2 separate regions of the Homo sapiens genome follow, and region 1 is linked to region 2. The links come from fine-mapping of genetic effects on gene expression. A gene starts in region 2. The other region holds a variant in brackets. All regions are shown on one strand. Distances are from middle to middle.

Region 1 (2,903 bases), 80 kb before region 2:
AACATTGATCATGTGTTTGACCTTGACATCAGCTTTCCGACACAAACACAGACTTGGGCACACACAAACACGCCCAGGTAGGAGCAAAACGCCATCATTCTGTTTGGGGTGGTCCCTGATGAATCAGCACAAGTTTGCCGGACGCGGTGGCTCTCATGCCTGTAATCCCAGCACTTTGGGAGGCCGAGGTGGGCAGATCACAAGGTCAGGAGATCGAGACCATCCTGGCTAACACAGCAAAACCCCGTCTCTATTAAAAATACAAAAAATTAGCCAGGCGTGGTGGTGGGCACCTGTAGTCCCAGCTACTCGGGAGGCTGAGGCAGTAGAATGGCGTGAACCTGGGAGGCAGAGCTTGCAGTGAGCAGAGATCGTGCCACTGCTGTCCAGCCTACGTGACAGAGCGGGACTGTCTCAAAAAAAAAAAAGAAGAGGGTAGGGGAAAAGAGTCATTCATGCCTCTGTCTGCCTCAGTGAATCTGTATTTTTACATAAGATCACACAGACAAAATGGGGCAGGGAAACAATTGGGTATGCATTTGTGTCTGATGGGCCATGGGTGACTGCACCTGTAAAGATGAGGAATCAGTTTACATTGCCATAGTGAAATCTTTATGGAAACACCTTAGAGTAAAGATCTCGGAGCTCAGTAAAAATTTCCTTGTGGGCAAAATATTAGGGAGGTATGGAGCTTCTCATCTTGCAGCCATCTTATTTAGAAACCAAAAGGGGAGGCAAGTTTGCATGATCCAGTCCCCAACTTGACTTTTTCCTTTGGCTAAATGAGTTTGGGGTCTCAAGATTTAATTTCCTTTCACAGATCACAGGTGTGAGCTACTGTGCCTGGCCTACGTAACACATTTACTAAACAACCTTGTTCACTACACACTTCCTGGTCACCTTCCCGTTTCTTACCTGCCCTCCAAAAGCCCAAACCCCCTTATCCGTTGTCTAGCCTGAACCCTGACGCAGCCTCAGGAGATCCTGAGGACACAGGCTACAGCGTGGTTTTCTACATTTTAGGGAGACAGGAGACATCATTCAATACATGTAAGGTGAACACTGCGGTCTGGAAAGGCGGGACAACTTGAAGGACGCGGGGGTGGGCTTCAGGTCATAGGTGATTTTCAGATTGTCAGTCGTTTGAAAGAGTTTATCTAAAGGCCAGGAATTGGCCGGGCGCAGTGGCTCACACCTGTAATCCCAGCACTTTGGGAGGCCGAGGGGGGCAGATCACGAGGTCAGGAAATCCAGACCAGCCTGGCCAACATGGTGAAACCCTGTCTCTACTAAAAATACAAAAATTAGCTGGGCCTGGTGGTGCACGCCTGTAATCCCAGCTACTCGGGAGGCTGAGGCAGGAGAATCGCTTGAACCCAGGAGGCAGAGGTTGCAGTGAGCCGAGATCACGCCACTGCATTCCGGCCTGGCGACAGAGTGAGACTCCATCTCAGAAAA[A/GA]AAAAAAAAAAAAAAAAAGACCTGGAATCAATACAAAGAGGTGTGTCTGGGTTAAGATAAGAGCATGGCCGGGCGCGGTGGCTCACGCCTGTAATCCCAGCACTTTGGGAGGCCGAGGCAGGCGGATCACGAGGTCAGGAGATGGAGACCATCCTGGCTAACACGGTGAAACCCCGTCTCTACTAAAAATACAAAAAATTAGCCGGGCATGGTGGCGGGCACCTGTAGTCCCAGCTACTGAGGAGGCTGAGGCAGGAGAATGGCGTGAACCCGGGAGGTGGAGCTTGCAGCGAGCGGAGATTGAGCCACTGTACTCCAGCCTGGGGCGACAGAGCGAGACTCTGTCTCAAAAAAAAAAAAAAAAAAAAAGAGCTTGTGGAGACCAAGGTTCTTATTATGCAGATGAAGCCTCCAGGTATCAGGCTTCAGAGACAATAGATTGCAAATCTTTCTTTTCAGACTTAAGAAGGCACCAGACCCAGTGAATTCTCTCCTGGATCAGGGGAAAGATTCTGGCCACCTGCTTCGGCCACTTTTTTTTTTTTTTGGCCAGCCACTGTGAATACTTACATAATTAAAATTGTCTTTTTCTCTTGTTAATCTGCCTGATCACGTTGATTCCCAGGTCCAAGGAATTCCCAGGTCCCTCAAGCAATAGATTAGAGGAAGTGTTTTGTTTTGCTTTGACTTCTTCCTCTATATTAGTAAAAGTATGTCTCACTCTGGGTGTCCTGTATTTGCATTTTTATTTGCTAAATCCAGTAACGCTATTCCAGGTGTAAGTAGGTTTCTCTGGACGTACAACTTTCATCTCACGAATCTTTATATTACTGCTCCTAAATTCTAACCTAGACAATGTCATTATTTTTCAACAGTAAAAATAGTCTGAATTAAGCCTTCCAGATGCGTACTCCCTTCTTTCCTGAGGCAGATGAAGTAGAGAAGAATGAAGGCAATTAACAAATCTGGACGAATCCACCCCAGAAGCAGCTCCTGCTGCACCCACCTCAGCAAAGAATCCAGAGGCGACCCCTCCTCTCCATCTGCTCCTCCTCCAGGCCACTGTCCTCTCTAACCCTTCTCACTGGCCCCTGCCTCCACTCTTGTCAGACAGCAAGCTACAGAATAACTGGGGAAATACTTTTTAAAAAAATAAATCAGACCACATCAGGCTCTTCAGCATGGAAATGTGGCCGCAGCCCATGGGCCAGCCCACCAGTGCCGATCATCCCCATCACACCCCATTAGTCCCCATCGGACCCCTTCATCCCCATCAGACTCCATCAGACCCCAACAGACCCCATCAGTCACCACCAGATGCCATCACACCCCATTAGTCCCAATCAGTCCCCATCAGACCCCATCACCCTCATCAGACCCCATCAGACCCATCAGACTCCATCAGTCCCCAGCAGACCCCATGAGTCCCCATGAGTCCCCATCAG
Region 2 (2,903 bases):
GCTTCCCGGGTTCAAGCAATTCTTCTGCCTCAGCCTACCAAGTAGCTGGGATTACAGGCGTGCGCCACCATGCCCAGCTAATTTTTGTATTTTTGTAGAGACCGGGTTTCGCCATATTGGCCAGGCTGGTCTCGAACTCCTGACGCCATGATCCATCTGCCTCGGCCACCCAAAGTGTTGGGATTAAAGGCGTGAGCCACTGCTCCCGGCCTGAAGTGAGTTTTTAAAACATGAAACAAAACATCAAAGTTATGAGGCTTGTGAGCATCTGTAACAAAGAACAATGCAGTTGCTGTGACATGACAAAACTTGTTTCTGCAACTCCTTTCATTAACTACACCTGACCCTGTCGCAGGAGCTGAGCAAGGCTTCAGGCTTACTATTGGAATAAGTTCATCTCTGTGGCTATTCAGGCAGTTCAAAGAATTCATTTTACACAACAGGCAAAACAAAAAAGGGAAGCCAAGATCCATTCACTCACAGTAACAGAGTTTTACAGCTGGATGGGACTGAGGGATTTAAAGAAGTCAAGGCAGATGTGTACAGGAGTGTATTTCTATATCTACTTAACTCACACACACTCCCCCAGCTTGATTCTACATCACCTTTCAGATCCTGGCATTTAAGATAATCTTCTCATATTACGGGGGAGGGCGGCGGGGGGAGGAGGTGAAAGAATAGTGTTGGCGGGGGGCAATCCGGACTGTCTTAAAGAGACAGCACACATCCTCTTATTAAGACAATAAATGAGAACGAAATTCACTAGTCAATACAATATTGAGCACCTACTGCCCATCTGAGCTCTATAAACTGACAGAAGAGAAGGGTGCTTCCCCACGTGTTCCCTGGTCCCGCATTTCGGCCTACAGGAACGGCGCTCTTTAAACTACTTACTAGACATGAACATTGCCACCGTGAGTCTGAGGCCAGCTTTCCCTCATCTTGTCTACTACGGAATCTTGTGAAATCCCAAAGATAACTTTAAAAATTATTTTAACATACATGTGAATTCACAATAACATAAATACACTCGCATCTCCTCCACACCGCTGAAAGAGGAGAAAGGTTCAAGTACAAAGGTGGGGAATGCTCGCACCGGCTTCTCCCTGTCCTGGGTGAAATCCATGTTGGGAAGAGCTTGATCTAGGTCACCCACCCGGGAGCTGAGACCACAGACGTCCCTGCCACCTTCGGCGGCGCAGCCTCGTCTAGATCTCACCGCCTCAACTTGCCAGGAAACTTAACGACCTGAAAGCACCAGACCGCCGAGCAAGCCATCGGAAGTTCCCTTTCGCACTCACCACCACAGAAAAACTGAGTTCAGTGAGACAGACCTTAGAGGAGCCAGGTCCTGGGATGAGACCTCCTGGTCCCCCAAGCACCTGCCATTGAGCTCCGCTCCGACCCTACGACCCCGAGAGAAACACCCGCCCGCGGGCAGAGCCGGCCGGGACCAGGAGCAGTGGGTGCGGGGCGACCCGCGGGACAACGACCCGGCAGTCCCCCGCCCTCAAGACCCAGGGACCTCGGCTCCGCCCGGTCCCGCCGCTCCCAGGCCCCGCCTCGACCCCCTCACCGAGCAGCAGCAACAGCAGTAGCAGCAGCAGGGGTCGCCGGGCGCTGCCGGGGGCCGCCATGGCGCGAGGCGGCCGGGTACGGTGCGGGGAGCGGGGGCGCGGGCGGCGGTTGGGCCGCGGACTGCCGGGCGCTGCGGTGGCGGGGCGCGGGCGCCAAGGGCTGGCGTTAGAGACAGCGGCGTTACCAGACGCAAGAGGCCCGGCCACTGCGACGCCGGCACGAAGAAGACACCGCGGCCGGCAGCGCTTGTCACGTGAGCTGCGCCGCGCCCGGGCGTCACGTGATCCCGCGGGTCTCGCGAGAGCGCGCGCGTCGAGCGCCGGCGGCTCGGCTCCCCGCAGGTGCGGCAGCTTCCAGCACCGCGCGCCCCCTCACGCGTGATGCAGGCCGACACGTGACCCGCAGCGGCACGTGACCCGCAGCGGCACGTGACCCTGGACCCACGTGACCCGGCCTGGTCCGGGGGACTGGGGCCGAGCCGAGGTCCTGAAACGGGAAGTGGGCTGGGTTCGCGGAAAAGGAAGAGGAAGAGTAGTGGCGGGAGAAAGTGAGGAAAGAGGAAGCCCGCGAGGGGAGAAAGGGCAGACGGATCGCGGACGCCCAGGCCTCCCTTCAGCCTGCGAGGCGTCCCAAACGCGGGCTCTTTATGGACAGGAGGGTGGTGTGGGTGGCAGCGCGGGTGACCGGCCGGGTGCGCGGCCAGGGATGGGCGAAGGGTTTGTCTTTTGGTGAGTGGGAAGCAAGTTCCTCACACAGGGAGGCCACTGTGCCCAAACTCTTGAGTGGTTTTAGGAAGGAAATAAGGGATCTGAAATGGGTCAGTGCGGCCTTCCGCTCGTTAATCGCGGGCTGAGGGAAGACGGCACCAGGCTGCCCAAGGTGAAGGTGAAGGTGCGATGGCGATACTCTTTGGCTTACAGAAAGTTCCTGTCGAGCACTTTGTTTTTTTTTTTGAGACGGAGTCTCGCTCTGTCGCCCAGGCTGGAGTGCAGTGGCGCGATCTCGGCTCGCTGTAACCTCCGCCTCCCGGGTTCAAGCGATTCTCTTGCCTCAGCCTCCCAAGTAGCTGGGATTACAGGCGTGCGCCACCACGCCCGGCTGATTTTGTATGTTGAGTAGAGACGGGGTTTCACCAGTTGGCCAGGCTGGTCTCGAACTCCTGACCTCAAGCAATCCACCCGCCTCGGCCTCCCAAAGTGCTGAGATTACAGCCCTGAGCCACGGCGCCTGGCTCCTGCATTTTAGAAGTCTGAAGATGCTCTGTTTTTTGGCTTGTCATCATATAGGATTTATGGCCTTTTGTTAAAATACTATTTAATTAAGGC

What was found. PIP is the estimated chance that this variant, and not a neighbour inherited with it, causes the effect. A credible set is the group of variants that fine-mapping cannot tell apart.
Region 1: its variant is the best candidate, but not a certain one, in a credible set for the expression of LAMP1 in monocytes after R848 (Quach 2016, PIP 0.88).

Annotation. Positions count from the first base shown.
Region 1 is chr13:113,376,073-113,378,975 of GRCh38, reverse strand. LOC124903218 (a long non-coding RNA gene) reads left to right here. Exons shown (of 2, transcript XR_007063881.1): 1 at 1-77; 2 at 2,334-2,631. Among named protein-coding and RNA genes, the nearest start is that of GRTP1, 13 kb to the right of the region's middle. RefSeq lists an enhancer at 1-322. The variant A/GA (reference allele first, on the strand shown) is at 1,459.
Region 2 is chr13:113,296,169-113,299,071 of GRCh38, reverse strand. LAMP1 (lysosomal associated membrane protein 1) reads right to left here and starts at 1,833. Exons shown (of 9, transcript NM_005561.4): 1 at 1,577-1,833. The coding sequence starts at 1,637. RefSeq lists an enhancer at 1,013-1,192 and a silencer at 1,423-1,702.